2 linked regions of the Homo sapiens genome follow. The protein of the gene in region 1 interacts with the protein of each later gene in a pairwise test. Each region holds a gene or a part of one and is shown on either strand. Other genes may lie near its edges. The genes, in order: ILKAP and MUSK.

Evidence for each region.
Region 2: the proteins of ILKAP (region 1) and MUSK interact in a two-hybrid assay, tested with the Homo sapiens proteins (one study listed by BioGRID and IntAct).

What each region holds. Positions count from the first base shown.
Region 1 is NC_000002.12:238,179,232-238,187,076, reverse strand, and holds part of ILKAP (integrin-linked kinase-associated serine/threonine phosphatase 2C), read left to right. Parts: intron 1-1,789; coding exon 1,790-1,896; intron 1,897-2,963; coding exon 2,964-3,057; intron 3,058-3,336; coding exon 3,337-3,424; intron 3,425-4,890; coding exon 4,891-5,012; intron 5,013-7,845. UniProt on the Homo sapiens protein: Protein phosphatase that may play a role in regulation of cell cycle progression via dephosphorylation of its substrates whose appropriate phosphorylation states might be crucial for cell proliferation.
Region 2 is NC_000009.12:110,797,161-110,805,005, reverse strand, and holds part of MUSK (muscle, skeletal receptor tyrosine-protein kinase isoform 1 precursor), read right to left. Parts: intron 4,701-7,845; coding exon 4,018-4,700; 3' UTR 1-4,017.

The sequences.
Region 1 (7,845 bases):
TCTCCTTAAGTTGCTCAGGCTTGTCTCAGAGTCCTGGGCTCAAGCCATCTTCCCACCTTGGTCTCCCAAAGTGCCAGGATTACTCGCATGAGCCACCATACCCAGCCTGGGATTTGCATTAAAACCAGGAAAGGGACCTCTGGAGCCCAAGAAGGCAGATCCATTGAGTGTAAATTTAATTGGGAACACTACATCATGCCTTGCAAATAACAGGCAGTAAGAACAGCTCTGAGTTATAAACCAGATGAGGTTTTTTTTCTCATGGCTCAGGATGTCCTAAATTGAAAAGGAATTCCAAAAAACTTGAAAGAAAAGCAGCTCTCTAGAATAAATGTCATTTCTCGTGGGCATTTTTGTTTTTTTTTTTTCCTTGAAATAGTTTATTTGATGTCTTTTATTCCATATATGTGGGTTTTCTGGCAAAATTTGAAAGGGGAATGGGAATAAGAGTAGTAAGATAGGTTTTAAAAATGAGATATTTAAAATTTATTTGAGTAACAATTCTGTAATATCCTCCCTGCTCTTATGCAGTCATGTGCTGAATAACAACATCAAGTCAGTGATGGACTGCATATATGACGGTGCTCCCATAAGATTACAAATTTTGTAGAGATGGGGGTCTCGCTATGTTGCCCAGGCTGGTCTTGAACTCCTGGCCTCAAGTGATCCTCCTGCCTTGGCCACCTCCCGAAGTGTTGGGATTAACAGGCGTGAGCTGTCGTGTTCAGCCATAATACCATGTTTACTGTACCTTTTCTATGTTTAGGTATGTTTAAATACACAAATACTACCAGTGTGTTACAACTGCCTATGGTATTTAGTGCAGTAACATGCTGTGCAGTTTAGCCTAGGAGCAATAGGCTCTACCATGTATGTAGCTTAGGTGTGTAGTAAGCTGCGCCGTGTTAGTTTCTGTAAATATGTTCTATGATGTTCACACAACAAAGTCACCTAACAATGCATTTCTGTTAAGTGATGCATGACTGTATTTTTTACTGTTTTCGATAAATAACTTGATCTGTTTGTTAATGTTTAAAACCAAATCCGATTTAAATAGGAACGGAGTTCTGAATTTTAGTTTTGTTGTCAGTGAAAAATCAGAATTAACAGATCTTGATCTTTGAAGCAAATGTGAGTTTTAAACATTTAATGTAAAATACTGGGAAAAGTGTTACATCTCTTTTAGAATATTAGACCTTTAGCAGGTCTTGCAGTCTTCACCAGAAACACTCCCACACCTACACACACACAGTGTTTTTGTTTTTTTTTTTTTTAGACAGAATCTCGCTCTGTCACCCCGGCTGAAGTGCAGTGGTGCGATCTCAGTTCACTGCAAGCTCCGCCTCCTGGGTTCACGCCATTCTCCTGCCTCAGCCTCCCGAGTAGCTGGGACTGTAGGTGCCTGCCACCACGCCCGGCTAATTTTTTTGTATTGTTAGTAGAGATGGGGTTTCACCGTGTTAGCCAGGATGGTCTTGATCTCCTGATCTCGTGATCCGCCTGCCTCGGCCTCCCAAAGCGCTGGGATTACAGGCATGAGCCACCACACCTGGCCCACACACAAGTATTTTTTTTTTAAAAAAAGATAAAATGCTGTGAAAGTTACTTAAATATTTGTCTCAGTTAAAGCCTTTTTTTTCCCATTTGTAACAGTGTGACTGGTGTCTTAACCAGTGTGACTTCCTCTGACTTATTAATGTTCACTCTTTGAGACGAAATTTAAAAGCTTTAATGGAAAAGTGTGGTTTTTGCTGTGAGAATTTGATTAACTCTCAATTCGTTCTTTCAGTACTCGGGTTTCATATTTTGCTGTTTTTGATGGACATGGAGGAATTCGAGCCTCAAAATTTGCTGCACAGAATTTGCATCAAAACTTAATCAGAAAATTTCCTAAAGGTGAGACTGAGAACTAAATCAGTTGATACTCAAATTGGTTATTGCTGTTTGGTTGGCTGTGTGAAGCAGTCAGATGTGTTATTTTGGCTTTAGCAGAGAATCATTGATGAGTCTTAAAAGAGTGGTGCTGAGGAGTGGATGCCAAGGCTTCCAGGAGTAGCGGCCATGCAGGTGTGACTTAGAATGGCACTTCTCATGATTCTAAGTGATAGGCACCTTTTGTCAATCGTCTTTGGGTTCAGTTAGTGTCTTGCCTTTACTGGAAAACTAGTAAACCAACTTCAAATAGCACTGTGTTATATGTGAGGAAAGAAACAGAGATTGTTCTGGCTGGGCACGGTGGCTCACACAGCACTTTGGGAGGCCAAGGCCAGAAGATCACTCAAGCCCAGGAGTTTGAGACCAGCCTGGCAACATAGGGAGACTCTATCTCTATAAAAAAAAAAAACAAACCTAACTGGACATGGTGGTATGTGCCTGTGGTCCCAGCTGCTCAGGAGGCTGTGGTGGGAGGATTTTCTGAGCCCCAGGAGGTTCAGGCTGCAGTGAACCACAGTTGCACCATTGCACTGCAGCCTGGGTGACAGAGTGAGACCCAGTCTCAGAAAAAAAAATTTAAAAAAGGAAAGAAATAGGGATTGTTCTTAATCATGCTTGAAAATCAATTGATGTGCAGAAATTACAAAAACAAAATGGCCAGCCCTGGTGACCCACGCCTGTAATCCCAGCATTTGGGAGGCCGAGGCAGGTGGATCACGAGGTCAGGAGTTCGAGACCAGCCTGGCCAATGTGGTGAAACCCTGTCTCTACTAAAAACACAAAAATTAGCCTGGCATGGTTGCGCGCGCCTGTATTCCCAGCTACTCAGGAGGCTAAGGCAGAAGAATCTCTTGAACCTGGGAGGCGGAGGTTGCAGTGAGCTGAGATCGCGCCACTGCATTCCAGCCTGGTGACAGAACGAGACTCCGTCTCAAAAAAATAAAACAAAAAACAAACCAAAATGACAGTGGGAGGAGGATAATCTTCCCTCCTTGAGAGATTGTTTTCTTTTGGCCCTTCTGTAATAGGAGATGTAATCAGTGTAGAGAAAACCGTGAAGAGATGCCTTTTGGACACTTTCAAGCATACTGATGAAGAGTTCCTTAAACAAGCTTCCAGCCAGTAAGTATAACTTGATGATGAAGTTTGAGTGGACTGTGTGTGGTGTTTTCCTAAATGCATTTCAGTCTTCTGATGTGGTTTAACACTATTGCTCACTGTCTGAAAAGTGCGTAGCACTCAGCTTTTATAACCGTTAGCTAAATCTAAAACAGAAAAAAAGCAAGTATCAAGGAAATGGTTCATTTTGAAATATAAGATACTTCCCATTGAGCTCTGGAAATTAGTCTCAAAGTGCTGGGCTATTGGTGGTGACTGTGTTTCTGATGTGTTTCCCCCCAGGAAGCCTGCCTGGAAAGATGGGTCCACTGCCACGTGTGTTCTGGCTGTAGACAACATTCTTTATATTGCCAACCTCGGAGATAGTCGGGTATGTGGCTCTGGAGCCACCCACTTAGATGACAATACGTTTTATGGGGAAAAGACTTTAGCACGTACTTGTTGAATAAGATTAAAGTGATGGTGTCTGGTTGAAACCTTTCTTCTGGGGTTGCTGCAGAGTGTTCTGCTGCAGTTTAACTTCTGGGTAAGGGAACAGCAACTCAGCTAGAGGCTGTTTGTTCTCTGGGGAACTTACGCCCTATGATAGACTTGTGCTTTAAAACCCAGATCCCGTCTTTTTTGTTTCTTTTTTCCTCCCGTGGTTTGTGTGTGTGATGCTGTGGATCAGAATGTAATCAGTATGCAAGTAGCCTAAATCTTCTTTTATTTCCTTTCTCTGACCTTAGACAGTAATGAATGAAAAGCTTTAACCCCTGCCTATCAAAGTTACTGTGATTTCAGAGTAACTTGAGAGCTGTAGCTAGAAAATACCAGATGAGGTGCCATTCATCACCCGAGCCCGGTCCCTGGCTGAGGGAGAAAGCCCAGGGTGTTGTTCCCCCTGGTGACAGTCGTGGGGATGCTGTAAAGCCTAGAGGGTGCTGCTGCGGAAAGCTGGATGCAGACCCTGCCTCCTCTGCATCAGGACCATGTGTTCCGTTCCGTTGCCGCTTTTTCACCCGGCCTCCTTGCTCCCTAGGCAGTCACAGGAATCAAGTGACTGTCCACACTTAAGCAGCATCTTTAGACCCCTCCCCACGATGCTTCTGGGGGGATGATTCATCAAATACTAAGTGCTAGGGGTATGGCAGAGACTATAACAGATGACAGCCCCTGCCTGGTGGAGTTTACATTCTGGTGGCCCTTTAGTAGACTGGCCTTAGCCCACATGTGTTTAGACCACATGACTTCAGAAATAGCAAGAGGAAAATTGGCAAAAAAACAAAGACAGGAGTCAGACCCAAATTTGAATCCTGGCTCTGCTCTGTGACTTTATTGAGTTACTTATTCTTCGTGCCTCAGTGTCTTCCTGTAAAACAGACACAATGAACCTGGCAGGGGCGAGAACACCTGGAGGCACTGGTGTGGACGGCCTACCTGGCACTCGGCCAGCATGCACAACGCTTGCCCTCCTCTTTGCCTTCCATAGGCTCATGGACATGTCTCTGGCCTTCTAGACTCCAGGCCAAAAGGGACCTTGATACTTGTTGAGTGCTTCCTTTCATGTCACAAATGTGACAACAGCCAGAGTGAGCACTTGTCTGTAGTTATTCAGCAGAGTTTGTACCAGAGTTGATATCAAAACCAGGGGCGACTCTCTCCCTAACTGTTGTGTCTTTGACACTTCTTTGCTGCTTGATTCTCTGAACTTACGTTTATCAGCAGGAGGCTGAATGTGAAACTCCATTGTTAACTGTTTTCTTCAAACTCCATTGTTAACTGTTTTTTTCAACTGGTACCTTTAGATGCTGCGCCCACTGAATTTCATGACTATTACAATCTCCATCTTCCCAGGCAATCTTGTGTCGTTATAATGAGGAGAGTCAAAAACATGCAGCCTTAAGCCTCAGCAAAGAGCATAATCCAACTCAGTATGAAGAGCGGATGAGGATACAGAAGGCTGGAGGAAACGTCAGGTAACCAAGGGACTGAGAGGAGCTCATGGGAAGGAGGGCTGTTAGCTGTAGAAGGGTCCCGAGACCTTCAAGGAGTAGAACTTCCCCTGTTACGTAGTCTTCAGTGTGACGAGGCTCTGTCTGAGATCTAACACTGGTGACATAGGTGGATGACAGTTGTAGATTTCACATGTGTCCACGTGGAAGGAAACTTGCCTCCCTACATTTGCAAAAGGACAAATTCATATTTACCATTCACAGTGTTTTCTCTGTGCCTAGGAAGTTTCTTAAATACTGTCACTTTTCGTGGTGGCGGGCGCCTGTAGTCCCAGCTACTCGGGAGGCTGAGGCAGGAGAATGGCGTGAACCTGGGAGGCGGAGCTTGCAGTGAGCCAAGATCGCACCACTGCACTCCAGCCTGGGCAACAGAGCGAGACTCCATCTCAAAAAAAAAAAAAAACCAAAAAAAAAACCTGTCACTTTTCACATTGAATAAGTTACAGTTTTAGGTGAATTCTCCAGAGAGAAAATCTGAAGTAGTTAAGACGGGTTAAGTAATGTCTTTGGACTTCTTGGGAACAACTGGCACAGAGGACCATGTCTTACTTGGCTCTGTCTTTTGCAGTTTCATTTCACTCTCTCTTTAAATCTTTGAAAACCATATGTCTGCTCTGGTTTTATTATCTGCTTCTATCCAAGGCAGCTAAAGGAGGGCATAAGTCTTTTCTTTAGAATTCCACTTCAAGGACATTGCATTATGAATTAGACCAGGAGTATTTTCTGGTTTGTTGTACAGTTTGACTATTAAAATTTTATTTTCTGCCAGAGATAAGAGAGATGTCATCTCTTAGTATAAGACTGCACTTACCTATCCTTTGAAGTGTAGTTTCTCTTCTGTTGTTCATTTGGGGAAGCCTTTTTTATTGCTCCAGGCTGAATCTAGTCAGTGGTACAGGGAGGTTTCTGGAGAGTAGTTGGAACCCTTAGCGTTTGTTCAAAAAGCTCTTGGATTAGTAAGAAGCAGTTTCATTCACGGTCGCTGCAGTTTACATGAGCAGTGATGGGATTATAGGCCTGGTTTCAGGCCTCAAGCAGTGCTGTTGGCCCAGTTTTTGCCACCGTAACTACTGTCCTGGTAACTACTGTGGACAGTCATGCCTGAGAATGTGACTCTAACATGAGCGTAAGCATCACCTCTTCTCCCCTTTCTTGTAAGTTTTACATTCATTCTGCTTTTGCCTGAACTCCTTGAAAATAATTGGATACTGACAGTCCGATGGCTGAAAGTAAGGCCAGTTGTGTTGCAGTTGCTTCCTATATCCCAGTCCTTACCTGATTCAGAGAAGTGTTTACATGCCTTAGAGAAATCATTTGACAGTGTGGGTTTTGGGTGACTCCTTCATCTCAGAGAAGGGCTGAGGCTAAGAGACCAGCAGCGTGGGTCGCTGCCCCTGAGCAGCAGAGCCCTGTCGTGGTCTGTTCTCCTGCCTGAGGCCAGGGCTGGCTGCCCCACTCTCAGCTTTTATCATTAAATTTTTCAGACATACAGAAGAAACTTGACAATAGTAAAACATTTCCAAATCTACTAGCAGTGAACATTGTGTCATGTTTAGTCTGTATAGATGTGTGTCAGGCTGAGCTGTTTAAAAGTTGCAGATATGATGACATAACAGCCTAAATACTTAAGCATGCATCTCCTGAAGATAAGGACGTTCTTGACATAATTAGTGAGAATTTTCACACCTAAGACAATAATATTTCCTTAGGTTAAGTTATCTAATACCCTGTCTATATTTTTATTTCCCGAGTTATCCCCAAAGTATCTTTGTTTCAAACCAGGGTCTAGTCAGCATCCATGTCTGCCGTGGACTTGGCATTTCTTTTTCTTTTTCTTTTTCTTTCTTTCTTTTTTTTTTTTGAGAGAGAGAATCTTGATCTGTTGCCTGGAGTGCAGTGGCACGATCACAGCTCACCGCAGCCTTGACCTCTGAGGTTGAAGCGATCCTCCAGCCTCAGCCTCCCAAGTAGCTGGGACCACAGGCATGTGCCACTGTGCCTGGCTATTTTTTTATTTTTTGGTAGAGACAGGGTCTCTGTCTGTGTTTTCCAGGCTGAGCTAAGTGATCCTTCTGCCTTGGCCTCCCAGAGTGCAGGGAATACAGGTGTGAGCCACTGCACCCTGCCGAGACTCATTTCTTACCAGGCTTTGAACCATGTTATAGGCCAGCAGTTGTACAGAGTCACCAATATTCTGAACCTGCGTATTTTTTTACGGTGTTATTTCTGTATATTTCCTATAAACTGGAAGTTAGGTGTAAGACCTTCTTTAGATTCAGATGAGATGTTTTTAGCAATGTTTTATGGGGGATGCTGTATACTCAGTAGTCCTTCACTTCAGTAGGCACATAATGTGACCCTTAATTAAGTTGCCAAATCCCAGCACTTGGCTCCGGTGGTGACAGCCGGATGCTCCTGTTGCCTTGCGTCATCAGCAGGTAATCTGGGGAGGTTCACTGGTACCTTGTGAATATTCTGTTTCCTGTCAGCCTTTCACCTAATGGTCTTAGCATCCCTAAATCATTATTTCATCAGGGATGTCAAAGATGATTTCCATATTCTGTGATTCTTTTCACATGTATTAGCGGGCATTCTGTAAAGAAACTTCTTATCATCAATAAGAGAACATCATAGATTCTTCTAAAAAAGCAGGGTCAATGTTTCATTCTGTCCTTTATCCATTTGAAAGGAAGATAGTCACCTATAGTTGTGGAAATCAGTGTTTTCCTTTCACTCCTCTGCTTCTTTCCCTCCATCCTTCCTTTGTGAATCACTGTGTGCCAACTGACTATTCATT
Region 2 (7,845 bases), on another chromosome or scaffold:
CATGTAGAAGATGTTTAAGATATATTAAGTGATAAAAGCAAGGCTTGAAGTAATGTAGCAGTATGATCTTATTTTTGTTTAAATTATCTATCTATCTCTCTCTATGTATCATCTATCTATCTATTTACCTACCAACCTACTTACCTACCTGTCTATCTGAAAAAGCCTGGAAGAATATTATGATGTTAATGTTAATTACCTCTGGTTGGTGTTTTTTCATTTTTATTATTGTCTATTATGATTATACATATTATTGTATATTATTGCATATTATTTTTCTTTTCAAACATAATATATTACTTTTATAAGAAAATAAGTAAATGTTATTTTAAGGTAAAGTAAGTAGATGTGATCTCTTGTGTAAAGTATGAAAAAGGCTTAATAGGCTTTTTACAAGATAAATCCCATAATTCGATTAGAAAATGAACACAGCAGAAAAATGGGCTGTAGACAATTGCCAAAATAAAAACTGTTAATGACCTAGGAACAAGAAACATTCAACCTGACTAGTAATTTAAAAAATAAAATTAAAAAGAGGTTCTCTTTTTCTATAACCAAAGAGACAAAAGATTTCTAAAAAACAGAAAATTATCTATGAAAGCAAATGTTTAGGGCTATGAGATCTCTTGTACAATGTAGAAGTGGCAGTAATATTTCTGCAGAATATGAAACCACATAACAGAAGTGTTAATATTGTACATGCCATTTGGTCCAGACATTTCCTTTCTCTGAATTTTCATAAAAAGAAATGTGGACATGAACAAATAAGGATGTTAATTACAGCATTTTTTATAATGATAAAAATTGGAAAAAACCTAAATGTTCAAAAATACAAGATTGATTAGCTAAATTACAGTATATGAATAAAATAGAATATTATTCCAAAATTGGGTTTTTAGAAGAATATTTAATGACGTGGAACAGGTTCGTAATATACTGTAAAATGAAAAGAAAGTGTTCTTTTTCTGCTCTACCACGATAGCAGAGAATATGTTTTTGGGTGTCATGTGAAAAATACTCTGGTATCTTACCATGTTTGGTATTTGATCACTAAAAATGACTGCTGGTGCCTTACTGATATCTGTCCTGGCACTTGGTAACAGTGACACTGTGAGTGTCTCTCTTTTGTCTACCTTTTTGAATGTATATGATGATTCTACCATGAAAAAAAATCTTATTTAAAAAAGTAAACAATATTGGTGAATAATGCATCTATACTCCTGTGATTCAGAACATTAGATCGAGCACTTAGGGAATAAGTCAGTGATCTTAACTTGAAAATGTAATTAGAACTCATGAAAAAATAAACATGTCACCTATTAGATGTTATGATTAACTTAAATTGATAATGCTGAAATATACTTTTTTTGCTATTCATTAAAAAGACTTAGGAAGTTAATAGAATAAAATATAGATATAGAGTGTGCTTGAAACGACATGCAAATTACAAATCACTTCCACAGAGTTACTGAGGTTCAGTTATTGCTTCTATCATGTACAGAGGCTCTACAGTATAGTGGTTGAGAATTCGGCCTCTTTTGGTCAAAAAGTAGGCTCTGTTGCTGTGTGCACTCGGGCCAGTTGCACAATCTCTCTGTGACTGTTGGAGGCTGAGCTTGCAGTGAGCCAAGATCGTGCCACTGCACTCCAGCCTGGGCGACAGAGCGAGACTCCGTCTCAAAAACAAAACAAAACAAAGCAAAACTAAAATGTATATAATGATAGTACCAACATTACAGGGATGTTGTGAGGTTTAAGTTCATATATTTAAAGGCCTCAGAATACACATGGTAAGATTTCAATAAATGCTAGCTGATATTATAATTTTTATGATTACTGTTACTCTATTTTCTGTCAGCCTGACTTCTATGTCTGTCTTTTACAACAAAACTTTATCAGCGGAGAAAGCCCGAAGCTGTCTTTGAATTTTGCAGAGCATACATGAACCATCTAAAATAAGCCATGGATATCTATGCTCAAGTTCTAGACTTGCTGGTGGCCCTCTCCAACTTTTCTGCTTTGTTGGCATCTTGACTTTCTGCTTTAGACACACGCTGCAACTTTATTCTTTATTCAGTCATTTGGATTACAGTATCAATTTTGGACTTAGACTCATGATTTTTATCTGAAGCACTTCTTTAGGTCTCAGTCCTAAATGCTGACCTCGCTATTTATGAACCAGAACTGTGACTAAGGACCGCCTTACTGTCGTTGTATCCTACAGAATCTGTTCAGGTCTGAAATGAGAGGAAGGCCAGCTAATAGACAGGGTGGGCAACGGTAGAGGTTGAGTCATTGGCTCTTGGGTTGAAGGGAAGAGGATGTCAGCAGGAGGATTTTAGGAAGTAAAACTAATAGAAAACTGATGATGAAAGAGAGGGCAAAGTCTAGGAAAATTTCTACATTTTTGTCTTGGTTGCCTGGAGACACTATGAATAAGAAATGGCAGGTTTCCCACCAAAGATGTCAAGCTGTTACATGAGGCAGATTTGGGGATTTCAGGCAGAGTTTTCCAGCAGACAGCGAAAATCTACTTTCAAGAATTCACACCATTCCTCCAATGCCCTAACTACCAATTAGTCTGAATTAAGATAAGCTGGTATAGAGTAGACTGTTATTTTCTCTTCCCTGTTCGTTTTCAGGAGAATTTGGGTTCCTGCTATATCAGAAATAAACTCAGATCATGTATGGACTTAGATAAAGATGTATTGTGTGAGGATCCACTGAGAAAAAATCTGAACCCCCAGGAATCTGAGTTCCAGAGCTGCTGCTTTTTTTTTTAAATCATGAAATACAACAAAATCAGTTAATATGTCATGCACAAAGTTGTTAAGCAGAACGATATTAATTCTACAGCCAACTGAATTTGTTTCTAAAAGGAATAAAATGTCAGAATGCACAGAAATATCAGTTTTGAAATAACTCAGAGCCACAAGTGTATCTTGTGAAATCTCATATTATAAATTATGGTTTAAGAGATTTAAATAGACTCTAGTAATAATATTAATAGGTGAGAATGTTGAAATGTGTGGCTTCAAAGGCAAATGCAGGAAAAATAGTAATACTTTGCAAAAGGCATATACATATCAATCTACAATGGTATTTAAAATGTTATTATTTCTGCCAGAGTGTTTATTACATGAATGAAATAAAAGAAAAAAATAGCTTAATAACTAAAAAAGGACAGAAGTCCTGGAAAGAAGAAGAAATAAAGATTAAAGCAATGGAAAAGATACCAATACAATTTTTAAAGGAAAAGGTAAATCAGTAAGATACAAAAACTTGTTTCAAGAAAACTGGAGGAATAAAATAAGCAGACTTAATTCATGACAAATGCACAGAAAGGAAAAAAGGAGGGGCACAGGACAGAAAAGGGAACTCAGAGTTACAGGCTTGCTGATTTGCTGTTTCATTCCTTAGAAACCCTCTATCAATAAAATGTAACCACAACTCTGCAGAATACAAACAAATATAAAATTATGCATTAAATGCAAGAAAGATTTAATAAAACACTAAGACTCGTCTTTGGGGGGAGACAGAATGAGTGGCTTTTCCTTCTTTTTAGTTTTCTGTACTTCACCTAAGTGTCTTACATGACGATTAAGCTACTTTCACAATGGACAGGAATTAACTCAATTAAAAAATGAAGCTCTGAATCCCATTTCATATTAAAATTTAATACAGCAGAGCTTTACTCTGTGACCAGCTACTTTGGAAACTGAACAGGATGACATTCTTCCCTGTGCAGTGTGTATTACAAACCTTCATGAAGAAGAATAGTTGTCTCCATTATCTGACACATTTCCTAGCCTGTGTTTCCAATCACTGGCTTTCAATGGGTCCGTCTACCACATGGGTTTTGCACTGTCTTTGCTCTCCCTGGGAAGCAAACAACACACTACTCATGTTTACTCTTACTCTTTCCTATGTGGGTCTTGTTGGGCCTCTGGTGTAGGATTCCCCTGGCTCACAGAGTCTGAGAGGAAACTGCAGCATTTTATTTGAACGTCTTCAACCTTAGACACTCACAGTTCCCTCTGCCCTCTCACACATGCGTTCCAGAATTCGGTGAATACTGGTGAAACTGGGTCTGTCTGCAGGCAGCTTGCTCCAACATAGACGCATGAGATTGTACAGCTCCACGGGGCAGTTCTCAGGGCAGGAGAGGATGTTGCCATCTCGCACGTAGTAAATGACCTCCTCATGGGCCATCCCATAGTAGGGCTGCAGGCCATAGGAGAAGATCTCCCAGAGGACCACGCCATAGGCCCACACATCAGACTCTGTAGTGTAGCGGTTATAAAAAATGGACTCTGGTGGCATCCAACGGATAGGGATAGCGTCGTTTTCATTAGCTTTGTAGTAGTCTGCTGAGTAGATGTTCCTGGAGAGGCCAAAGTCGGCAATTTTCACCACCATGTTCTCGCCCACCAGGCAGTTCCTGGTGGCTAAATCTCGGTGAACAAACTTACGTTCTGAGAGGTAAGCCATGCCAGCTGCCACCTGCCTGGCAATGCAAAGCTGCTCAGCACAGGAGAGGGGTGGGGGCCCAGGGCTGGAGACCTGAGCCCTCATAGACAAGTCACTGTGACTGAGGCTGCACACGGTGTGAGGGGACATGCTGCGGAGGAACTCATTGAGGTCACCATAGGCCATGTATTCAAAGAGCAGGCACATTGGCTTCCCGACAGCACACACTCCTGGAACCAAAAGACCATCCCTGTTAGTCTCAGTTTCTACAATGAAACAATGGAAAGAGCACTCCAAAAGCAAACGACCATGTCAGAACATATGAAGCCCTGTTTTTTGTTGTTGTTGTCGTATGTTTGTTTTTTAATATTTGTATCCTTTTAATCACAACACAAAAGGAGTCTCAGCTAGGAAATGCACTCTGGGTAGTGGGGTTTCTGTCCCTTGGCTAAAGTTTTTGAGGACTTCCAGCAGAGCGCTGTTGTCCTGGGCACTTGTCATAAGTACATCGTACATGGTGCATCAAGTTCATGGTGCATATAAGTACATGGTGTATCAGTTCTCTGGAGTGGCTCTTCTCTCTGAAATCTGGAGGCCCTGGTTTTTTGTTGACAACACCATGGTTGAACCCTGACCCTATTTCTCTGCCTAAACATCTCCTCTTTGCCTTTAAGATTCAGTTTATCACTCTCCCTAGGGTGCCTCAGCTCCTGATCCTTCCAGTAACTGTTAGATTTTCCTACTGTCATCCTTTCACAGAGAACCTACCATCCTATTTTATAATCATTTGACTATTTGAGGTTTCTCCCCAACGTTTTAGCACTTTGAAAGGAGAGATTGAACCTTATTCTTCTTTAAAAATTCCCCACACCTACCACGTGTCTGGCAGAGCAGATGCCTCATAATGTTTGGTGAGTTAATTTATGAATGGATGCTTGCTCTGAGTATGTAATGTAATTGCTGTCTGTTTCTGTTTACTTCTATGAAGGATGTTAATAAGAAAGATGTATCAAGTTTGGAAACAATAACAAATACAATTCAAGTGTCTTAGATGAAGTATTTAAGTTGCTGCAGTAAAACATTTTGAAATTTAGGTTTTACAATGTTCATGCTACCAAAAAAGTTAATATAAATAAAGTCTTAGATTTAAAGCCAGAAGATCATTTTCAAATCTTAAAGTCTTGATATATTTGAGAGGGAAACTGGAGAACTTGGAATATTAGATAAGATGGGCATAATTTCACATCATCTTAAAAATAGATTATTAGATCTATTGGGTTTTTTCAGGCAAAAGTTAAAAGTATCTGTTTGAAAAAGAGGAGAAATGAGGAATACTGCTATCTTGGCTTATTTATTTTGGCATTAATTTTTAATTCCAAGGACCTCAATTAGCACATTTCTGTAAACTAAAGGGAAAAAATAAAGAAATACCAACTGGATAATACTTAGAAGTTTCTTCTGTGGGATCCTTTTTGGATAATCTTTAGTTAACAGGGACTTACCTATCTCATCAACTGGCTTTACCATTGTTATGCTGGTTGAGTTGATTTAAAAATAATTTCTTATACTGGAAAAAAATGACAAAATATTTCTCTGAGAAATAAAGTTTTGAACTAAATTGATTTAATGAAATTTTCCACTCTGATAAAGAAAATACTATACAAAAGATTTCTACTTTGTGATTATTATGAACAATTATATATACATGTGTATAGATATAATTTACAATTATATATGTATATACATTTATTTAAGACCTCAAAATGTTTTCTATATTGTAATTACTCCAACCCAACTCTTAGGTGGGACTTCAAAATATAATAATTATTGAGAGGAAGACTGTATTTTATTCATCCTTGTAACCTCAGGTCTAATACTACACATGGCTCACTATGGGTTTTCAATATATGTTGATGGGTGGATGGATGAATTAATGCATAGGTGGATGCATGGATAGATTTAAGGATGGATGCATAGATGGATGGGCATAAGAAAACCTCATGCCTAGCCCAAGCCATGTCTTTAAACTTTAGCATGACATCTTCAATGAATAATCTCACCTGATTGTTCTACTGTTTGCTCCACTGCCAGAATATTCCGTAAGAGTCTATAATATTCAATGCCTACTCCCATTCTAAAATTCTGCATATTTCTTTAGTTATACCATTTTTCCCAATTTATGACTACAAAACCATTATCCACTAGGATTTCAATAAAAGGGAAACAATTTTTAAGATACGAACATGTTCAATAAGTGGCTGATGTATCAAATATATAAAACAAAGTAGATTTCTTTTATTGATAGAAGTGAATTTTATGGATTTTCCCAATTCCCCTTTCTTCCACTATTGTCATCTTATTTCACTGGGATTAACTTACAAGAAACTATGAGAGTAGTGGAATCACTTGCATGAATGATTACTGCTTATGTATACTTGATAAAAAATAGAACCTGTGTTCATTGGATATCCAAATGGAATTTAGATATAGCATTTAACAAACGGCAACATAAGTTTCAGTTCTTGTTGGACAATAAAAATGAGAGAAAACTCCAAGTAGTGATGTATAAGCATGCTACTGTGGTTAAATTGGAAAACTGTACATAGTTTCTGTTTGAATCAATTTCAGGAATTCAGGATGTTATAAACTGTATACGAATACAGAGTCAACATTTTAAGAAAAGTTGAAACAGGAATTGCTTGATAATCTTGAAAATATGCATGTATGTATGTTTGTTTAATGACTAAATGTATACTATTTGAGAAAGTAAATAAGGAGGGTAGGGGGCAGAAGCCAGATTCAGATTTTTGTGTGATGAAGAATGAATAAATGAATGTTTAGGAGTTGAGGAAATGGAAGAAGTGTTTTCAAGATGAATTGTTATGTACTTAATATCGTTTATTCATTTATTGAACAAATATTTATAGAGTGCCTACAATGTGCCAGAAACTATTCGAGATACTACTATAGAAATTCTTGCTTTTAATATTTATCTAGATTCCTTCCAATATCCTGACCACTAAATTACTTTACTTCCTTTCCTTAGACCTCTGCCCAACTTCAGCTAATCACTCACATTGTCATACCCCTGACTTTGTCATTCCATACATTTGTATACCTCCCATAATCTCATTTTCAGTTACTCTACCTGTTGTTCATCACTTCCTCCCTTTTTCACCCTAGTTCACTGCCTCGACTGCCCTAACTCTAAAAATCCTTTGACCCCACTGAAACTTTTTTTTTGTTTGTTTGTTTTTTATTTGTGAATTATTTATTTTTCCTATGCATTACAATGAAGTCAGTGTAATTCCTAAAAGTATTACTTGTTTGCATGCTGAAATGCCTTCTTTTTTTTTTTTTTTTTTTTTTTTTTGG